Linked DNA regions of Homo sapiens: regions 1, 3 and 4 are each linked to region 2. Evidence: fine-mapped expression QTL. A gene starts in region 2. Each other region holds a variant in brackets. All regions are shown on one strand. Distances are from middle to middle.

What was found.
Region 1: its variant is fine-mapped to the expression of PIP5K1C in whole blood (TOPMed, PIP above 0.99).
Region 3: its variant is fine-mapped to the expression of PIP5K1C in whole blood (INTERVAL, PIP above 0.99).
Region 4: its variant is fine-mapped to the expression of PIP5K1C in skeletal muscle (GTEx, PIP above 0.99).

What each region holds. Positions count from the first base shown.
Region 1 is chr19:3,629,819-3,635,154 of GRCh38, reverse strand. It overlaps PIP5K1C (phosphatidylinositol-4-phosphate 5-kinase type 1 gamma), which reads left to right. Exons shown (of 18, transcript NM_012398.3): 17 at 1,635-1,718; 18 at 1,986-4,972. The coding sequence ends at 1,988. Among named protein-coding and RNA genes, the nearest start is that of CACTIN, 5.7 kb to the right of the region's middle. The variant G/T (reference allele first, on the strand shown) is at 2,038.
Region 2 is chr19:3,698,124-3,703,459 of GRCh38, reverse strand. It overlaps PIP5K1C (phosphatidylinositol-4-phosphate 5-kinase type 1 gamma), which reads left to right and starts at 2,992. Exons shown (of 18, transcript NM_012398.3): 1 at 2,992-3,163. The coding sequence starts at 3,070. RefSeq lists silencers at 2,744-3,233, 3,314-3,453 and an enhancer at 3,152-3,935.
Region 3 is chr19:3,615,904-3,621,239 of GRCh38, reverse strand. It overlaps CACTIN (cactin, spliceosome C complex subunit), which reads left to right. Exons shown (of 10, transcript NM_001080543.2): 3 at 438-533; 4 at 968-1,113; 5 at 1,998-2,160; 6 at 2,251-2,365. Among named protein-coding and RNA genes, the nearest start is that of CACTIN, 8.2 kb to the left of the region's middle. RefSeq lists an enhancer at 2,323-3,195. The variant G/A (reference allele first, on the strand shown) is at 2,622.
Region 4 is chr19:3,647,696-3,653,031 of GRCh38, reverse strand. PIP5K1C (phosphatidylinositol-4-phosphate 5-kinase type 1 gamma) reads left to right here. Exons shown (of 18, transcript NM_012398.3): 8 at 1,001-1,206; 9 at 4,324-4,407. Among named protein-coding and RNA genes, the nearest start is that of CACTIN, 24 kb to the right of the region's middle. The variant C/T (reference allele first, on the strand shown) is at 2,142.

The DNA of each region.
Region 1 (5,336 bases), 68 kb after region 2:
CCCTCCTCCCTGCGGGCCAGTTCTTTCAGGGCTCAGGTGGGGACCCTGTTTTGGCCCCACATTTTCAAGTCCCCATGGGATCCATCAGTGCAGCCACCAAATCAGTACTGAGCACCCACATAGGCTCCCCATGCCGGGCTCTCAAGGGACGTTGGGTGGACCTGACCTGCCATTCCCACGTCAGGGATTCCAGGCTGCATTTGCTACCCTGGAGGAACAGGCAAGGCCTGCGCTGGGGTCCTGGCCCCTCAGTGCAGGAGTCAGTCCTCCGCGATGCGGCCTCGCAGGGCAGGAGTGCGCTGCCCTCGGTGCCCAGGGCCCGGGAACAGGGGTCTTGTGGAAGCTGTAGGATCGGGCAGGGTGGAGTGAGCACAGAGGTGGGCCCTTTAGAGGGAGCATGGAGGCAGAGCCCGAGGCAGGGAGAGGCAGTGCTCCTGCAGGTGAGGTCTGGGCTCACCTGGAGCACAAGGGAGGCCCCTGCTGGCCCAGGCTGGGCAACTGGGAGCTGGCAGAGGCATGGGTTGGCCTGGGCAGCAGGTGGGCAGCGTCATCCTGACTGGAAGGACGAGCAGTGGGTCTTGGGGTGATGGACTGGGTTGTGACTGTGGCGAGTTTAGGGGCCGAGGGCCGCCAGGTGGACGTGGCCAGGCAGGTGTGTATTCAGGCCTGGCACTTCAGGCCGAGGCCAGGCCTGGTGGAAATTCGCAGGTCATCTGTGCCGGGAGGGGCGTTGAAGGCTGGGTTGGTGACAGAGGCCCGAGAGAGAGGAGGACACAACAAGGAAGACAGGGCGGCCAGGCTGGAGCCCTGAGAAAGCAGAGCAGCCTAGGGGCAGGAGAAGCAGGGGGAGCTTGAGGGGGTGGGGGCTCCTCAGGAGGCGGGACGGAGGTGTTGGAGGAACGCACCCTCCCTCCCTCCCCAGATCCCACCCAGACCTGGGACCCCTCACGCAGGCACAGCTGGGAAGAGCTGTCCGTGTCCCTGCACACGGCCCTGCCTGTGCCTAGCCCTGAACTTGGCCCTCACTCTGCCCTGCTGCTCAGGAAGGCGTCTCCTGGCTCTTGCAGGGTGGGTGGTCCGAGCCTCAGTCTCTCCTAGCACGTCTGTGCTGGCAGAGGGGACTGGCCCTGCCCGCAGGCAGCCATATATTCAGGTCCCAAAAGGCTTCTGGGTTGGGAAGTAGGTCCGGCACCCCGACCTCCCAGGACCCCCATAGAGAGCTTCCAGGAGCCTGTGCGCTGGTGCCCGTGGCACAGGCAGGATTGGGGGCTGTGGTGGGGCCGGGCTGTGGAGGAGGAGGAGGAGGAGGAACACTCGGTGCTCCAGGTCGCGACCCCCACCCGCTTCCGCCGGCTCTGTCACCTGCTATCTCAGGCCCTGCCTCGACTGAACTAACTGCTTTCTGCCGCCCGCCGTGCCCCGCCCCGCCAAGCTGAGCTGAGGCCCCAGGCCCGTCCAGGTTGGGAGCAAGTCCACCGGGTCAGAGAGGGCAGCTGGGCTGAGCCACCCCTCGTCTTCCATGGGGGATTCGCCTCTTTTATGTTCTCCTGTCTCTTCCTTCCTCCCTCTGCCTCTCTTGCACCTCCTCGCACCCTGCTCTTCCGCGCCCTCCTGCACGCGCGCCCACCTGCCAGCCCACCGATGAGAGGAGCTGGGTGTACTCCCCGCTCCACTATAGCGCCCAGGCCCCCCCGGCCTCCGACGGCGAGAGCGACACAGTAAGTGCAGCCCAGGTGCACCCGCCGGTCCCGTGGGCTCCAAGGTTCTACTGAGCGTGGTCCCCAGCTACTGGGATAGGCAGGGACTGAGGCCCGGGGCGGGAGGGCACAGGTGGCCCAGAGCTCCACCCTGGGCTCTCTGGCTCTGAGGTGGCCGTGGGCTAAGTGTCTCAGGGCCTGTGTTGGCCCAAGGAAGCCAGTCCCTGGCAGGGGGCCTGGGGTGGGCCCTCGCCCCGCCCACCTTCACCTGTCCTCTTGCTCTTGCAGTAATTTCTATGCAGCCCCCGACCCAGAGCCGAGCTCCACTTCTGCTCCGGCT[G/T]CCCCCGAAGGCGCTGCCCACCCCGCTGAGGCCCAGAGCTCGGGAGATGCCCGCCTCGCCGCCCCACCGGACCTCGTCCTCCCCCTGCACGGATGCCGACGGCCGGGCCCCTCCCCGACAAGCCTCCCAGGGCCCCGGCACCCCGGTCGGCAGCCTGCCCCTGTGAGACCCACCCTCCCGAGCGGCCAATCGCATTTGAGTCCTTATTTGGCACAGAGACGGAAGCACGTGTGTGCCGTTTTAGGAAAAGAACAAAAAAGACACAAACAAACCAACCAGAGGGAGAAGAGCCCCTGCCCACTGCACTCTTTGGTTCTCTGCTGTGCCTGCCTGTGTCCTGAGGAAGAAGCCAGGCTGTTCGCGGTGGCCTCTGGGGACCTGAGCCCCGGGGGCCCCATCGGCCTGCAGAGGGGACGGCTGGGGTCCCGAGCAACTCTGCCTCCATCCACGTGGGAAGCGGACCCTCCTGCCCTCAGCTTGGGTTTGGGGGCCTCAGTGCAGGACATCTGGCCTGAACATCGACTGTGGGGACAGCCCTCGCCCTGCCAAGCACTGCGGCCACTCAGCAGCTATGTTCCCGCCGCAGTGGGGCCCTGACGCCCACCTCCCAGGTGCCCCTCGAGCAAAAACCTCTGGCGCCTCCAATCCAGACCCACCACAGCTGGAGGGCCAGGCCTCCTCTTCCCCAGGCTGCCACCCACGCTGGCGGAGCTCAGGGCTGGGGACTTGTCCTTCTCTTCCAACGTAGGCCACTCAGCAACTGGCATGGAGGGCCCAGGCAACGGAGACGTTTTCTCCATGGCAGGACAGAGCGGGAGGCCGGGCCTTGGGCCACAGGAGACCAGCTCAGGGCGGAAGGTCAGGCTCCCCGCCCCCTCCACGTGGAGACATGGCCTAGGGGGCCAGGCCCGGCTCCACAGGAGTCTCCTTCAGGACTGGTGTGGATGTCCGCCGCCTCTTTCTTGTTTAAGTGATGTGATGTCTCCGAGGAGGGGAGAGAAGACTTTGTTTCCGACTCATCACCCTCCAAGAGGGCAGCGCTCCCAGTGGTGGGACTCAGCCCAGACTGCCCTGGGGCAGCTTCCTGGGCCCGCTGCGCTCAGAGGGTGCTGGTTGGAGGCCAGAGCTCGGCAGAGTCACCCACCCTGCCCTTCCCCAGGACCCCTGAGAGGGGCTTATTGGTGATGGCTGTGGGAATCCCCCACTTCCAAGATGTGCCCAGGATGTGAGGAGCTGGAGTGGAAGCTGCACCTTTGGGAAGAATTCCTCTCCAGACCTGGCAGAGCCTGGTGTGGGGTCTGAGACGGCCGGAGAACCTCCCAGGCAGGGCTCTGTGTTTTGTCTGTTACAACCTCCGTATGACGCCACGCCACCCGCTGTTCACGTCCCGTCGGCCTCCTGCACAGCCCACACGCTGCGCCCGGAAGGCCCCTGCTGTGGAGAAGCCGGACCCATCCCCGAGGTCCCCAGCGAGGACACACACTCCACGAGAGCAGCCCCTCCACTCTGCCCAGGAGAGGGGCCGACCCTCCTCGGGAACCGGCCAGCCGCGTGGCTCCCAGCATCCATCAGGACAAGCCCACGTGGGGTCCTCCCTGCGTGCTCAGAGGGTCTGTCCAGCCCTGGGAAGCGACCTTGGCCTCAGTTCACAGCCTGGTGCTCATCTGCTGGCACCGGGCATCCACCCATCAGCCCCCGCCCTGTCCCTCCGAAGGACACCCAGCAGGCACCCCCCGGGGAGGCAGGGGCAGAGGTCAGAAGGGGTGTCTGGGACCTGGATGGCCAGCAGGGACAGGGGCATTGTCATCTCAAAGGCCCAACCCCCAGAGGCCACACCAGTCCTCCCAGGGAGTCCTCGAGTCGCCCTGCCCAGAGCCCTGGCACCAGAGACGCCAAGAGCCTGTGGGGTGACTCGGAGCAGCAGGTGTGGCCCCGGGCGGGCGGCACCGCGTCCAGGGCAGCCTCCCTCCGCTGAGTGACACGGGACACCAGTGCCCGGCCGACGCGCCTTTGCAGGAGAAATGTGCAAACCTCTGTGGATACCATTTCATTTCCATTCTTGTGTTGTCTCCAAGGCCCTTTTGGAGATATACTTGGTGTTGGTTGTGTTTTTTGGTTCCTTTTCAGAGAACTGTAAACCGAGGCTGACGTGCTCCACTGACTGTGCCGAGGGGCGGGGGCAGGAGGACGGCAAGACCTATTTATAATATTTAGCGAACTCGGTCTCCCTCAGATCCCCCGCGAGGGAGGCTGCTGGACCCACCCCGCTGTCCCCCATGATAGAAGTCTGTAAATACCTTGGTGACCAATGCCCACTTCCCCTCCTGGGTCACCTCTGATGGCTGCTGTCCACTGAGAACGTGGGCAGTGTCCAAATTCCTGTACTGTAAAGACTAAAAGGCGTTTGCTCTGAGACTGACAAGGCGGAAACTTCCATGTGTCTCCTGCCAGGCTCTGTCCCCCTACGCCATCCCGACACGTCCCCGTTCCCCCGAAACCTGGCTCAGTGCAATACTCCCATTGCCATGGGGTCCTTCACCATGGTACTGTCTCCACAGCCCTCAGTCCCCACCCCAGGAGAGGCGCCTGCCACCTCCTCCTCATCTCCGGTGGTTCAATCGCTCCGCCTGTCCCCAACCCAGTCCCATTTTTATGGCCAAACTGATTCTGAAACAAAATGAAACTGCAAACCTCGTGTGTCTTAACTCCCCCCAGGGATGCCACTCCATTCCTCCGCCCCGTGGTCTGGTGCGTGACAATCCAAAGCGCCGAGACGAGGGTGCTGTGTCCCTCAAACCCAGAGTGGTGGGCGCCTCTGAAACCATACAGCCACTCCTGGCCCCAAACACTGGTTTGCATCCCAGGTTCCTCGCCCACCTACCCCCGCCACACCCCGTCTTTTTAGAGATCTCTCTAATAAATCGGGTAATAAGCATCCGCCTGTTTGCCTTTCTGTGGGTTCCGGAGGTCTGGTTGGGAGTCTGAGGAGTGACTTTGTTCTGTGTTTTTTGTTTTCTGTTTTTGTTTGTTTGTTTGTTTTCTTTTTAAGAGATGGAGTCTCGCTCTCCACCCAGGCTGGAGTGCAGTGGCGCAATCTCAGCTCACTGCAAGCTCCGTCTCCTGGGTTCACACCATTCTCCTGCCTCAGCCTCCTGAGTAGCTGGGACTACAGGCGCCCGCCACCACGCCCAGCTAATTTTTTATTTTTAGTAGAGGCAGGGTTTCACCATGTTAGCCAGGATGGTCTCGATCTCCTGACCTCGTGATCCGCCCACCTCGGCCTCCCAAAGTGCTGGGAT
Region 2 (5,336 bases):
TCCTGCCTCAGCCTCCCGAGTAGCTGGGATTACAGGCACGCGCCACCACGCCTGGCTAATTTTGTATTTTTAGTAGAGACGGGGTTTCTCCATGTTAGTCAGGCTGGTCTTGAACTCCCGACCTCAGGTAATCCGCCCACCTCGGCCTCCCAAAGTGCTGGGATTGCAGGTGTGAGCCCCCGCGCCCGGCCCATTTTCACCATGTCTAAGAGCACAGCTCCGTGGCCTTAAGCACATTCCCATGGCTGTGCAAACATCACCGCCATCATCTCCAGAATGTTCTCATCTTCTGAGACTGGAAGTCTGCCCCTGTGAAACACTCACTCCTCGTCTCCCCCCAAGCCCCTGGCACCCCCCATCCTACTTTCTGTCTCTGTGAATGTGACAACTCTAGGGACCTCCTAGGAGTGGAACCACACAGAATTTGTCTTTTTGTTTTTTTTGTTTGTTTTTTTTTTTTGCGGGGACAGACGGGGTCTTTCTCTGTTGCCCAGGCCAGAGTGCAGTGGTGCGATCATAGCTCACTGCAGCCTTGAGTTCCCGGGCTCAAGCAGTCCTCCCACCTTAGCCTACTAAGTAGCTGGCTAATTAAAAAACAATTTTTTTTGTAAAGATGAGGGGTCTCACTACACCTAGCTAATTAAAAAAATTTTTTTTGTAGAGATGAGAGGGCTCACTATGTTACCCAGGCTGGTCTAGAACTCCTGAGCTCAAGTAATCCTCCTGCCTTGGCCTCCCAAAGTGCTGGAATTACAGGCGGGAGCCTCTGTGCCCACCCCAAACATTATTTATGTGCATAGGTAATATAATCATTATGATTTACATTTATGTAAATAATATAAACGTTATTACTTAAATTAACATAAACAACATAAGCCTTATTATGTGCTTATATAAAGAACATAAATATGGCCGGGCGCAGTGGCTCACACCTGTAATCCCAGCACTTTGGGAAGCTGAGGCGGGAAGATCACGAGGTCAGGCGTTCAAGACCAGCCTGGCCAACATGGCGAAACCTCATCTCTACTAAAAATACAAAAATTAGCCGGGCGTGGTGGCACGTACCTGTAGTCCTAGTTACTTGGGAGGGTGAGGCAGGAGAATCACTTGAACCCTGGAGGCAGAGGTTGCAGTGAGCTCAGATCGCCCCCCTGCACTCCAGCCTGGGCAACAACAGCAAGACTCCATCTCAAAAAAAAAAAAGAAGGATATAAATATTGCTACTTACATTTGCATAAATATATATAATTTATTATGTATTTCTATAATTATATGTTTCTTATAATAGCAAACTGTATTATTATTGATAAAATAATATAAAGAAAACAATAACATATCTATACTTACGTAATACAAACGATGGAATATAAATATTATTTGCAATATGATAATAAACAGGTAGTTAATTGCAAATGTTATTGATATGTATTGCGTAGATCAATGTTAATAACATGTATTGTGTAGATCTATATATATATATATTTTTTTTTGATATGGAGTCTCGCTCTGTTGCCCAGGCTGGAGTGCAGTGACACGATCTCAGCTCACTGCAAGCTCTGCCTCCCAGGTTCACCCTATTCTCCTGCCTTAGCCTCCCAAGTAGCTGGGACTACAGGCGCCCGCCACCACGCCTGGCTAATTTTTTGTATTTTTAGTAGAGACGGGGTTTCACCATGTTAACCAGGATGGTCTCAATCTCCTGACCTCGTGATCCGCCCGCCTCGGCCTCCCAAAGTCTTGGGATTACAGGCATGAGCCACCGCGCCCGGCCCTGTGTAGATCAATATTATTTACATGTACTGTGTATATCACTGTTATTGGTATATTTTGTGCATATCAATGTTATTGACATGTAGTGTGTATATCAATGTTATTGACATGTAGTGTGTACATTAATGTTATTGGCATGTAGTGTGTATATCAATGTTATTGGCATGTAGTGTGTATATCCATGTTATTGGCATGTAGTGTGTATATCAATGTTATTGACATGTAGTGTGTGTATCAATGTTAGTTACATGTATTGTGTAGATCAATGTTATTGGTATTCATTGTGTATAGCAATGTGATTGGCATGTATTGCATATAGCAATGCTATTTGTATGTTTTATGTAGATCCATGTCAATGATATAGTATAGATTCATGTTATTGGCATGTATTGTGTATATCCATGTTATTGGCATGTATTGTGCATATCCGTGTTATTGGCATGTATTGTGTATATCCATGTTATTGGCATGCATTGGGTAACTCCATGTTATTGGCATGTGCTGTGTAGGTCCATGTGTGGTTTTTTTTGGGACAGAGTCTCACTCTGTGGCCCAGGCTGGAGGGCAATGGTGCGATCTCAGCTCACTGCAACCTCTCCCTCCTGGGTTCCAGCGATTCTCCTGCCTCAGCCTCCCGAGTAGCCGCGATTACAGGCATGTGCCACCACGCCCAGCTATTTTTTGTATTTTTAGTAGAGACAGGATTTCACCATGTTGGTCAGGATGGTCTTGAACTCCTGACCTCAGGTGATCCGCCCTCTTCGGCCTCCCAAAGTGCCGGGAATATAGGCGTGAGTCACCGCGCCCGGCCAGATCCATGTTATTGTCATGCGCTGTGCAGGTCCCTGTTATTGGCATGTGCTGTTTAGATCCATGTTATTGGCATGTGCTGTGTACATCCATATTATTGGCACGTGCTGTATAGATCCATATTATTGTCATGTGTTGTGTAGATCCATGTTATTGGTATGTGTTGTGCACAGCAATGTTATTGATACGTATCGTGCCTGTCAATCTTACTGACCTAATACGATGGAATGGCGAGCCTGGCTCTGTACTCCCACCCCTGGGCGCGAGGGGGCACTCGAGGCGCTCCTGGCTGCGGGTCGCAAGCAGGCCCCGCCCCCGAGCCCCGATTGGCCGCGCGCCGTCCGCGGCGTCGCACGCACGCAGGCCCCGCCCCGTCCGCCCCGCGCCGGCCCGGCGCGCCCTCCCTTGGCCGGCGGCGCTTGTTGTTCGGCGGCGGCGGTCGCAGCTCGGGTCCCCCTCGGGCGCCCCCGCCGCCGTCCGCGCGCGGCCATGGAGCTGGAGGTACCGGACGAGGCGGAGAGCGCTGAGGCGGGGGCCGTGCCCTCGGAGGCGGCGTGGGCGGCAGAGAGCGGGGCGGCGGCAGGTAACGGCCCGGCCTCCCGGGGCTGCGGCCCGCTGGGCTCGTCCGAGCGCCGAGAGTCGCGGGGCTGCGGGGCCGGGGCGGGGGCTGCACGGTCGCTGCGGGGGCGCCGCCGGTTCCAGGAGCCTGGGGCGGGGCAGTCCCCTGGAGCCGCGGGGAGGACGGGGCTGAAGCCGCGCCGGGAAGCGGGAGGCCTGCGAGGGGCTACCTCCCACCGCTCCCGGGCCGGGGGCGACTCGGCGTGGGCGCCGCTGGGGATCCCCGTTCTGCCTGACCCGCTCCCAGGGGCTGCCCGTCGTGTGAGTGGCGGCTGCTTGGGTGGAGGCGGGGGTCTCTGAGGCCGTGCGTGCCCACCTCCTGATGTCACCTCCCTTTCTGTAAGTCCCCAGACCTGAGTCCGGGTGCGCGACCTTTCCTCACCTTCCTGGGCCTCAGTTTACCTCCCTGCTAAAATGAGGGGAGGAAAAGGGTTACATCTCAAGATGCCTCCACCGCCCCGGCTGTGCACACAGGGTGCCCTGTCGCCCCCTTTTCCTCTCCCCGAGCCTTCCCCCAGGACACACTGGTGGGGCTGCGGGCTGGGCGGGGGGCACGGCTGTCTCATGCCCCCTTTAGCTGCTTCCTGGACCTCCAGCCGGGTAGGTGGCGGCAGCTGGGCCTTCCCTTCTGTGGGGACGGTGTGCAGAGCCCAGAGGAAGGGAACAGTTCCTTCTCAGTCGAGGTCACAAGCTCCCAAATCGGAAGTTTCCGGATTCACAAAATCCTCTGCTCCTCCCAGGCAGCCAGCAGCAGCGTCTCTGTAGACACCCACACGGGCATCCGTCCTCCTTCTCCCCCCAGGCCTCCCGAAGCTTCCTTGGTTGGCAGGCGGGCAAGCGGGCGGGCGGGCGATGCGTGCTGCCTGGGAGTTGGGGAGATGTCTGGAGAGAGAGAGAGTGTGGAAGTCATCAAGTCCCCCCCCCACCCCCCGCCTTGAAAGACACTCGTGGCTTCCCTCCCGGCGGCCATCTGGAACCGCTTGGTAGGTGACCCGGTTCCTTCCCCAGAGCCAGTGGCCTCGCCCCTTTCTTTGCGGGCAGCCGGTGTCCTGGCCTGGCCAGCAAGAGACATGGTGGAGGAACCCAGGCAGGGCACCAGGCCCCAGCCCGGGTTCCTTTCTTGGGCCCCCCAACTTCCGCTGTCAGCCCTCTGACCCCAGCTGGTCAGAGACAAAGTAGCCCAGGACTCGCTGACCAAAAGAAAACCACACCGCGACCATTCATCTTATCAGGGGCTCTGGGAGCACCGGGGACAGATAAAGTTGCCAGCTCCAGACTGAGCATGGTGGTGGGGTGGGAGAGCGGGGGAGTGGGGGGGTGGGGGTGGGGGGCCGGGGAGGGCTGGAAGGTCAGGGTCTGGCATCTCTGCCCATCCCTGAAATCCACAGAAATCTGACCCCAGCTGGCCATATACTGCTTCTGAATGTTTAAAATTCAGAGTTGCCTCACTCCTCCAACGCCATCCCTCCTGATGTTAGCGCTGGTGAGTTTAGGTTGTGCCTGGCTGGGCCACAGAGACGTGAGCACATAAAGGGGCCTGCTTGTTCTTCACCGAGATGGTTTCATGCCTCACTGGGGCTTCTGTGCCTTGGCAGAGGTATTTTGAGTCAGGAAATTAGGGGTGCTGAGCAACGCCCCTGGCTTCTGCCCACTCCATGCCAGGAGCACCTGCCAGTTGTGACAGCCACAAGTGACCCAGACACCGTTCAGTGTCCCCTGGGGGCAGGACGGCCCTGGTGAGAAATGCCACACGTTTATGACTCTGTGAACTGCTTGCTTTTTATCTCTGGTCATCTGGAGTCTCCCCACCCTATGTTGGTATCGGTTTGTAGAGAGGGCGAGCGCCAGGCAGTGGTTAAGGGGGAGCCCCAGAGTTGGTCCCGCCGATGTCCCCCTCCCAGCTCCGCGCTTCAGGTGCTGTGTGGCCGTCACTTCCCCGGGCTTCAGCGTCCCGTCTGTGAAGTGGGGTGATGACCGTGTGTGCTAGGGGCTGAGCCTGGGATGAGTTGGCGCTCGTGCTTGGTGATTGTCGTGCCGGTTGGCCACCCCTTTCCGGCCTCTCCACCATCGGTGCCTCCAGGCCCCTGCTGAGGCCCATGCCCGTGGTTTCTGGAGTCACCGCTCACTGTTAGAAGCGA
Region 3 (5,336 bases), 82 kb after region 2:
CCTGCCCTGTCCCACGTGCAGTGGGGGACCCTGACTTGCTGAGGGCGTGGCCTTCACGTCCGAAGCACTCAGACTCCCGGGTAAAGCGAGTCAGCAGGCCCCGAGCAAGGCTCTTCTGTTGGGGGCTGGGGTGGCCCCGAGCAAGGCCCTCCTGTTGGGAGTTGGGGCGGCCCCGAGTGAGGCCCTCCTGTTGAGAGTTGGGGTAGCCCCTTCTTACCCTTTGCATACATCTCACTCCCAGTGGGGGCTCCATGTCTGCACTGAATTGGATGCACTGGGTTTCAGGAGTGTTAAGGAGGGGGTGGAAGACGTGCAGTGCTGGCAGGTCACCTCTCTCTGCAAAACAAGGGCCCTGGTCAATCTCTTGGACGAAGGAGCTGAGGAGGGGGGCGAGGGGGCGGGTCTGTGCTCAGGGCAGGTGTGCCTGGTGCTTCCAGGCCCTGGAGAAGAAGGGGATCAGCCACCTGGAGGAGAAGGAGCTGAAGGAGCGGAACAAGAGGATCCAGGAGGACAACCGGCTGGAGCTGCAGAAGGTAGGCACCCTGCCAGCCCACTGGGCAGGGCCCTCCCTTTCCAGGGCCTGGAGGCCCGCCCCCTTTGGCAGGACTTGAGGGGCTTAAGTGGGAAGTCCTGGGGGCTGGCTTCAGGTAAGGCTGGATCCAGGGGCTCAGACCATGGCCCCAGGAAACTGTTTCCCTCCACCTCTCGGCTCTGCTGGCCTCGGGCCTTCACTCCCACATGCTCCCTTCAGGGTGGCCGAGAGGGCCCCAGCTGATCTGAGCTGCTGAGTCTCGGGCAGGAGGGCCCTCTCCCTTCCCAAGGTCTGTCCACCAGCCCAGGCATCTCCGGACCAATCCCTGTGCCCAGGGCAGCTGGGTGAAGGCTGGGCCCCCATCATCACAGCCCCTCCCCCCGCAGCCCTGCAGACCGCACGGTCCCCGCTGCCCTCAGCCTCCTGTGCCTGCAGGTGAAGCAGCTGCGGCTGGAGCGGGAGCGGGAGAAGGCCATGCGCGAGCAGGAGCTGGAGATGCTGCAGCGCGAGAAGGAGGCAGAGCACTTCAAGACATGGGAGGAGCAGGAGGACAACTTCCACCTCCAGCAGGCCAAGCTGCGGTGCGCTGGGGCCTCCCCCTCCCTCCGACCCAGACTTGGAGCCAGGGCCGGGCACTGGCTGTCACTCTGGAAGCCACTGCTCTCCCACCCTTCAGGGTCCCACACGGCACTTCCTGGGACCTTCCCTTCCTGACCCCTTCCCGGGCGGCAAGGCTTCTGTCTCCTGCCCTCCCCTGCTGGGCAGGGTGCAGAGGAGACGGGCCCAGGTGAACGGCACCCCACGCATGCTGGACGCCAGTCCTGCACTGACTGCAGTTGTCCCTCCCACACTCCACCCAGGAGGGTGGCACCCCCATCCGCCTGGTTTACAGACAAGCTGAGGCTCCGGGGTGTCCCTGCTTGCCTTGGGCCCCGTGGCGGGTGACATCAGGCTCCTCCCAGCTCGGGCCTCCCTGGTGACGGGTTCCCTTGGGTTGGACCAGGGCCCGCCTGCAACGCGTACCCCCCTGCAGGCCCAGAACAGAAACCCGGCTCTCTGCCCCGAGTGGTCTGCCTGGGGGAGGAGGTGGTTGCAAGGCAGTGACTACTCTGGTCCCCCAGCCTGCCTCTGCTTCAGCTCCTCCACTCTTCCCCATCACAGCCCACATAGAAGCCGCCATCCTGGGCACATCCCAGAGGCCCTCCAGGAAGCCCCTCCCACCTGGCCCACCTCCGGGTCCACGCTGCTTGCACTTTGTCTGCACTGCTGGCCTGCGCCCTTTGGCTGACCCGGCTCACTCTACCTTATGCCTCCTCCTCCTCCTCCTCCAGGAAGCCTTCCCTGACCACCCCCAACGGGTCAGGCCCCTCCTCGGCTCCCACTGGTGTGGTCACCCCAAGGGCAGGGTCTTTAGCATGGAGGGCACAGCCCAGGCTCTGATGCCACCTTCCCCTGCTCCCCACAGTTCCAAGATCCGCATCCGGGACGGGCGGGCCAAGCCCATCGACCTGCTGGCCAAGTACATCAGCGCTGAGGATGACGATCTGGCCGTGGAGATGCATGAGCCCTACACGTTCCTCAACGGCCTCACCGTGGCCGACATGGAGGACCTGCTGGAGGATATCCAGGTACCCAGCCCCACCCGATGCTCCTCTGACCTGCACCCTCACCCCCACCCCAGCCACACCCGTGTCCTGACCCCTGCCCCCTGCCCCCAGGTCTACATGGAGCTGGAGCAGGGCAAGAACGCCGACTTCTGGCGGGACATGACCACCATCACCGAGGACGAGATCTCCAAGCTCCGCAAGCTGGAGGCCTCGGGCAAGGGGCCAGGTAACGGCGGGCATGGGCCTGGGCTCCAGGGGAGCTGCGGGGGCTACAGTGTTCACCCAGAAGCCTCAGACTTGCTGTGGGGCCTGGTGCTCTCTGCAGGCCTCGGTTTCCCCAACTGGGGCCTCCCCTTCTGGGCCGAGCCACCAGGGGGCAGCAGCGGGCAGTAGGCCCTGGGAGGGATGAGTGGGGCGGGCCTCTGTCTGGGGTGCAGGGCCAGCAGCGTCCAGACCCAGCGTCCCGTTAACGCTGACTCGGC[G/A]GTGCCGGCCTTATGGGAGCCACGGGGCTTTCCGCTCAGGTTTCAGTGCTCTCAGTGGCTCTGCCTGTTTGACAGCAAGTCTCGCTCCACCTGGCCTGAAGGCCGTGCAGCCCAGCTTCAGGGCGCTACCTGTCCCGTGCGTCAGTTCGTGCCCCTCCAACCTGATGGGCTTTTAAAATCACGTTTCCCCCCCCTCCGTGTGGTTGCACACACATGGTCACCGGGGATGCTCTAAAGCGTCTACCCTGAGCACTGCGGACATGCGGGCTGGGCCGTTCCCTAGGGTGGGGCCGTCCTGGACACTGCTGGGTGCTGAGCAACGTCCCTGGCCTCCACCCAGGGTCAGGAGCACCCCTAGTCCTGACAACCGCAGATGTCCCCAGACGTTGCCCAGAGTCCCCTGGGGGCAGAATTGCCCTAGATGAGACCCCCCCCCCCCCCGGTCTAAAAGCCAACCACAGCAGCCCTGCCCCCTCCCCGCCAAAATCCACGCCCCAGCGGCTGCTGTAACAGTGCCTGGCTCTCATGGGCCACGCATCCCTGTCGATAGACCCGGTCCTTCCCCTGCCCTCCCTCTCAGGCCTTGGGTGCCATCATGGTGGCCGAGGATCCCAGGAGGCTGGGTCAGTGTCATTTGCAGCCCTCAGCGTGGTCTGTGGCAGGTCCTTCCTAGGAAAGAGCCTGTGGCTTTCCTCTTTTTCAGTGGAGCTTTGTGTTCCCCGGAGGTGGAGTTCACTCAGCCATCCTGTCCCTCCAGTGGTCTCCTCCGTGGGGCACATTCTCCCGTAACCTCAGAGAGGCAGGGCAGTTCTCCAGCATCAGAGGTGTGTCCGTTAAGGGTCTTGGTGTGCTCCTGCTGGTGGCAGCGGGGCTGGGCAAAGACTTCTGGGTGCAGTACATTTTCCTTCAGAAGCCGCAGACCCTACCCACCGGCTGCAGGAAGCCTGGGAGGCGTTTCCAGCGTTGCCCTAGGCCCCGCCCTCTCCTGTAAGACTGGGAGGCGTTTCCAGCGTTGCCCTGGGCCCGGCCTCTCCTATAAGCCTGGGAGGCGTTTCCAGCGTGCCCCACTGCCCTAGGCCCCGGCCTCTCCCATCCCTTCCATGGCCTTCTGCCTCCACCACGTCGCTCAGCCCTCCTTTCCCCTCACGCGTTACAGTTGGGGACCCCAGGTGGCTTTGGTGTCTTCCGAGGGAGTTTGTTTCTGATTCTCCTTTCAACATGGTTTCCAGGAGTAGGGAACCGAGGGGTCTTGACTTTGCTGTCCCCCTGGAGACCCACAGAGCCCCTGTCCTGGATCTTCTTAAATTAATTGGGGTTTTCCTTTTACTTTTCATTTTTCAGAGACAAGGTCTCGCTCTGTCGCCCAGGCGAGAGTTGAGTGGCGCGATCAAGGCTCACTGTAGCCTCGACTTCCTGGGTTCAGGTGATCCTCCCACCTCAGCCTCCCTAGAAGCTGGGACTACAGGCGCTCACCATCACACCCAGCTATTTTATTTTTTGAGAAGGAGTCTCACTCTGTCACCAGGCTGGAGTGCAGTGGTGCGATCTCTGCTCACTGTGACCTCTGCCTCCCAGATTCAAGCGATTCTCCTGCCTCAGCTGCCCAAGTAGCTGGGATTACAGACGCGCGCCATCACGCCCAGCTAATTTTTGTATTTTTAAGGAGACAGGGTTTCACCATGTTGGCCAGGATGGTCTCAATCTCTTGACCTCATGATCCTCCCACCTCAGCCTCCCAAAGTGCTGGGATTACAGAAGTGAGCCACTGTGCCCAGCCACTTCTGAAAATTTTTTGTAGAGATGGGGTCTCACTGTGTTGCCCAGGCTAGTCTTGAACTCCTGGCCTCAAGCAATCCTCCTGCCTCACCTCCAGAAGGGCTAGGATTAAAGGCATGAGTGACTGCATGCTTTTTCTTTTTAATTTTTACAAAATTAAAGTTTTTTTATTATTTCTGTAGGTTATTGGGGAACAGGTGGTGTTTGGTTACATGAATAAGTTTTTTTGTTTTTTGAGACGGTGTCTTGCTCTCTTGCCAGGCTGGAGTGCAGTGGTGTGTTCTCAGGTCACTGCAACCTCTGCCTCCTGGGTTCAAGCAATTCCCCTGCCTCAGCCTCCCAAGTAGCTGGGATTACAGGCACCTACCACCACACCTGGCTAATTTTTTGTATTTTAGTAGAGACAGGGTTTCACGATGTTGGCCAAGATGGTCTTGATCTCCTGACCTCGTGATCCACCCACCTCAGCCTCCAAAAGTGCTGGGATTACAGGCGTGAGCCATCGTGCCCGGCCGTTTACATGAATAAGTTCTTTAGTGGTGACTTGTGAGATTTTGGTGCACCTAGCTTTTTCTAGGAAGTTCTAACCCTACAGGAGGTTGTGCAGTAGAAAACGGGTGTCATCCCAGCTCAGCTTCATTAGCCTCCCACCCTGTGTAGGGCCTGGCCTTTCCCCCACGCAGCCCCAGGGCCCTTGGCCTGCACCCCCAGCCTCTAGCAGCTGCTGGGACCCCCTAAACCCCCGGGCCCCCTTGTGGGCATTCGGGAGGCATCCAGACATGCAGCAGCATGTCCAGACCCGGCTTTCTATAGACGCTGACCTGGCGGCACCTGGCCTGGCTTCCTGGGAGCCTCGCGGCTGGGCTCTTCTGCTTGGGTTTCAGTGTTCGTGGTAGCCCCGCCTGTCTGGGCACGGCCGCGCTGTGCTTGGCTGGGGCT
Region 4 (5,336 bases), 50 kb after region 2:
TTCAAGACCAGCAGGGGCAACATTGTGAGACCCCATCTCACAAAGAAAACAAAACACTTATAACATGTCCCCAGACCCAGCCCTTGGGGGTCGGGAGTGTCTGCACTGCTGAGAAGTGGTTCCTCTGGAGGTTACACGATGACAGTGGTAGAGTCCCCCCACCCCCCAGAGAAGAGCCCAGCCTTCAGATGCTGTGGTCACAAGCCCAGAGCTCCCAGCCAGCCATGAGAGCTTGCTGTGCCTCAGTTTCCTCACCCATCAAATGGGATGACTGCTTGCTCTGCAGGCCACAGTGAGGGCCCATGTGCGTCCAGTGAGGGTCTGGCTCCTGTCCCCGTGGAGCCTGCGTTGGCTCCGTGTTAGCGAAAGAATGATATGCACGGCTCTTCCTCTGCCTGGGTTAGCTCCGTCGTCCCCGTCCCACCCCGGCAGCTTCGAGGCATGGAGCCAAGGAGGGGAGGCCCCAGCCTGTCAGGAGCAGAGCCTGGGACCTCCCAGCTCCCCAACTCCACCCAGGCCCCGCTGCTGACCATCCCCAGCTCCCCGACCCCTTTGAGAACTTGACCCATACCCCCAGAAAACCGCCCAGACCACTCAGGGGCCTTGAGGCTACCCTGGGCATCCACCCACCTGGGTGTCACCTGTCAGGCCGGGCACGTCCTTGCCCATGGGCCTGGGCTGGTCAGAGCATAGGCCCGGCTCCCTGTCTCTCAGGAAGGAGTAAAGCCAGGAAGGGAAGTCCCTGTCTCAGTGCCCGGGGCAGCCTGCTGTGAGGCTGGAAGCCCCCATTCTCTGGCCTGCTCTGATGCCGCTGTGTGACCGCAGCCCCTCTGTTCCTCAGGATAACACTAGAACCCCCACTCCTGCCTGGCCGTGGGACTCCATCTCTCACACCCGAGCCCACGGGGCCATCCGTGCTGGGAACCCCATAGGGTCCGGGAGCCGTTGTGGGGGATAGAGACGGCTGACGGCGTGGCGTGTTCCTGCCCGATCCCGCCAGGTCCTGGAAAGTTTCAAGATCATGGACTACAGCCTGCTGCTGGGCGTGCACAACATCGACCAGCACGAGCGCGAGCGGCAGGCGCAGGGCGCCCAGAGCACCTCAGATGAGAAGCGGCCTGTGGGCCAGAAGGCGCTCTACTCCACGGCCATGGAGTCCATCCAGGGTGGCGCCGCGCGCGGGGAGGCCATCGAATCGGATGACACGTAGGTGGGCGGGGGGCCGCCGGACCCGTCCCGCTTCCCTTCCCCACAGGCTCCAGTTCCCCATCCCCGTCCCAAGTGTGAAAACAGGCAGGGAGGGCTGGCGAGGGCATGCGTGGGTGACAGACAGAGTCTGGGAGCCTTGTGCCAGCGCCTCAGAGCGAAGCCAGGCCGTAGTGCGGGCCGCAGGCTGAGTGCAGGGTTCCGGGCCTTGGCTTGCAATGGTGGGGGCGTTTCCCATTCACCCGTGACTGGGCCGAGGCCACTGGCCATCCACAGGAATGAGAGAGAGATAGCGTTTCCCGGTGGCACTCAGAGGGGTCTACACGCCACCCGTGCAGAGAGGGGCCACAAAGGTGTGGAAGGCGCATGGGAGGCCAGAGGGATCGGGCGAGGCAGGGCTCACAGCAGGACACAGCCCACGAAGCAGAGGGACTGCAAAATCCGATTCCACACAGATCAAAGCAGCTGCTGGCTGGGCGCAGTGTCTCATGCCTGTACTCCCAGCACCTTGGGAGACCAAGGTGGGAGGATTGCCTCAGCCCCGGAGTTCAGTACCAGCCTGGGCAACATGGCAAGACCCCATCTCTACAAAAAATATAAAATGTAGCTGGACGTGGTGGCACGTGCACCTGTAGTCCCAACTACTTGGGAGGCTGAAGGCGTGGCAGGCGTGAGCGTGGCAGGCGGAGGTTGCAGTGAGCCAAGATCACACCACTGCACTCCAGCTTGGGCAACAGAGTGAGACCCTGTCTTAAAAAAAAAAAAAAAAACGCTGGGCGCGGTGGCTCACACCTGTAATCCCAGCACTTTGGGAGGCTGAGGCAGGTGGATCATCTGAGGTCAGGAGTTCCAGACCAGCCTGGCCAACATGGTGAAACCCCATCTCTGCTTAATACAAAATATTAGCTGGGCGTGGTGGTGCACGCCTGTAATCC[C/T]AGCTACTTGGGAGGCTGAGGCAGGAGAATCGCTTGAACCCAGGAGGTGGAGGTTGCAGTGAGCTGAGATTGAGCTATTGCACTCCAGCCTGGGCAACAAGAGCTAAACTCTGTCCAAAAAGAAAAAAAAAGTGGCTGCCACAGAAGATAGGAACGGTGGTGGAGAGAGGAGGCCACATCTCAGTGGCCTGCAGTCATGTCTGCTGGACACCAGGGGCAGAGGGACCAGGCAGGCCCTGCCCTCACAGGGCTCAGGGTTTGGCTGGGGAGATACTCACAGAGCTCTCCTGGGACACTGGATGTGAGGGCTGGGTCATTCTCTGGGGTGGGGCTGTCCTGGGCACTGCAGGGTGCTGAGCAGCGTCCCGGGCCTCCACCCACTCCGGGCCAGGAGCACCCCCCAGTTGTGACAACCACAGATGTCCCCAGACATGGCCCCGGATGCGGGATAGACAGGTGTCGTATAGCAGTGCTGAGATTGTGCCCTGGTCACAGCAGCACCCTGACAGTGGGGGCAGGCCCGAGCCTTCACTTTGGTACCTGTTCAGTCTTCACAGCGGCCTTGGAGGAGGGAGGTGGGCTTCCCCTGTTTCCAGCTGAGGAAATAGGCTCCTAGGTTGGGGGGCAGCCTTCCCCAGTGCAGCCACGAAGGTGTGGAGCCAAGTTCCACCTGGCCTGGCCCCAGGGACGGTGCTGGCTGGCACTGGCTGGCACTAGGCCACCAGCTGGGCTTTGGTTTGCAGCGGTGGTGGTATTTCCCATGGATGGCAGAGGAGGAGCCGGGGCCCCAACCAGGGTGTAGCTGCGGGGGGGTGCGGGAGCCAAGGCCAGGCACAGCTCCCCCTCAGACCATCCTGGCGTTTGTAGGGTCTTCGCTGGCCTGGCGGGGGAGCAGGTGAGCGTACCAGCCTGTGGCGTGAGCAGAGCGTGCAGGGCGCCAGCCCAGCGGGTCTGGGTCCCAGTGGCTTCAGGATGACTGCTGCACGTGTGGCCTCACTAACCGCGCTGGGCAGGGGACGTGTGGGCACGGTGCCGGGTGACAGTTAACTCCCGCGCTGGGCAGGGGACGTGTGGGCACGGTGCCGGGTGACAGTTAACTCCCGCGCTGGGCAGGGGACGTGTGGGCACGGTGCCGGGTGACAGTTAACTCCCGCGCTGGGCAGGGGACGTGTGGGCACGGTGCCGGGTGACAGTTAACTCCCGCGCTGGGCAGGGGACGTGTGGGCACGGTGCCGGGTGACAGTTAACTCCCGCGCTGGGCAGGGGACGTGTGGGCACGGTGCCGGGTGACAGTTAACTCCCGCGCTGGGCAGGGGACGTGTGGGCACGGTGCCGGGTGACAGTTAACTCCCGCGCTGGGCAGGGGACGTGTGGGCATGGTGCCGGGTGACAGTTAACTCCCGCGCTGGGCAGGGGACGTGTGGGCACGGTGCCGGGTGACAGTTAACTCCCGCGCTGGGCAGGGGACGTGTGGGCACGGTGCCGGGTGACAGTTAACTCCCGCGCTGGGCAGGGGACGTGTGGGCACGGTGCCGGGTGACAGTTAACTCCCGCGCTGGGCAGGGGACGTGTGGGCACGGTGCCGGGTGACAGTTAACTCCCGCGCTGGGCAGGGGACGTGTGGGCATGGTGCCGGGTGACAGTTAACTCCCGCGCTGGGCAGGGGACGTGTGGGCATGGTGCCGGGTGACAGTTAACTCCCGCGCTGGGCAGGGGACGTGTGGGCATGGTGCCGGGTGACAGTTAACTCCCGCGCTGGGCAGGGGACGTGTGGGCATGGTGCCGGGTGACAGTTAACTCCCGCGCTGGGCAGGGGACGTGTGGGCATGGTGCCGGGTGACAATTAACTCCCCAGTCTGTACCTGAGACCCCGTGGCCCTACCTGGGCATGCAGTGTGCGTGTGTGTGCATGTGTGTGTCCAGGCACACGTGTGTGTAGGGGGTATGTGCCCAGGCCTCCTAGCTGGGACTCCTCAGCAGTGCCTGGGCCTGGGTTTGAGGCTGGGGGTGATGGAGGGATGTCAGGACAGAGGTTCCCGGGTGCCAGGCCCCACTCCGAGAGCTTGGCCAAGTTGCCACCCACAGGAGCAGATGGACTCCCTAGCCCTGGAGTCCCCAGCCCCGCCTGCCCCGAGTCCCAGCTCTGCGGGATGCTGATGGTACCCTCGGCCTCTCTCCCCAGGATGGGCGGGATCCCCGCTGTGAACGGCCGCGGGGAGCGGCTGCTGCTGCACATTGGCATCATCGACATCCTGCAGTCCTACAGGTGGGTGCCCGGGTCTGCAGTCCTACAGGTGGACGCCCCGGGTCTGCAGTCCCACAGGTGGGCGCCCGGGTCTGCAGCCCCACAGGTGGGCGCCCGGGTCTGCAGCCCCACAGGTGGGCGCCTGGGTCTGCAGTCCCACAGGTGGATGGGCGCCCCCAGGACACCCATGCACAGAGGCGCTTGCCCGTGGAAACAGCCGCACCAGCAGCTCTCGGGGCTTCCTCAACCTGGAAAGCTCTTGCTTGGCTGCCCCTTCTTGAGCCCTAAAGGGAAGGTGTTTGGTCGCCTTGAAAATCTAGAGTGAGTTGGGCGTAGTGGTCCACACCTGTAATCTAGCACTGTGGGAGGCCGAGGCGGGAGGATTGCTTGAGCCCAGGAGTTTGAGACCAGCCTGGGCAACATAGCAAGACCCCATCTCTACAAAATATCAAAAAATTAGCTGAGCGTGGTGGTGCTCCTGCAGTCCCAGCTACTTGGGAGGCCGAGGCAGGAGGATTCCTTGGGCCCAGGAGTCTGGGGCTGCAGCAGTGAGCTATGATGGCCGTACTGCACCCCAGGCTGGGTGACAGAGCAAGACCCTGTCCCAAAAAAAAAGAAAAAAGAAAATCCAAGGAGTGGGTTTGAGGCCTCACTTTGGGGCTCGAATATTTGTTTTTTGGTTTTTCATTTGTTTGTTTTAAGACAAAGTCTCGCTCTGTCACTCAGGCCGAAGAGCATTGGTGCGATCTTGGCTCACTGCAACCTCTGCCTTCTGAGTCGACCCTATTCTCCTGCCCCAGCCTCCCCAGTAGCTGGGATTACTGGCACGCGCCAGCACGCCCGGCTAATTTTTGTATTTTTAGTAGAGATGGGGTTTCACCATGTTGGCCAGGCTGGTCTTGAACTCCTGATCTCAGGTGATCTGCCTGCCTTGGCCTCCCAAAGTGCTG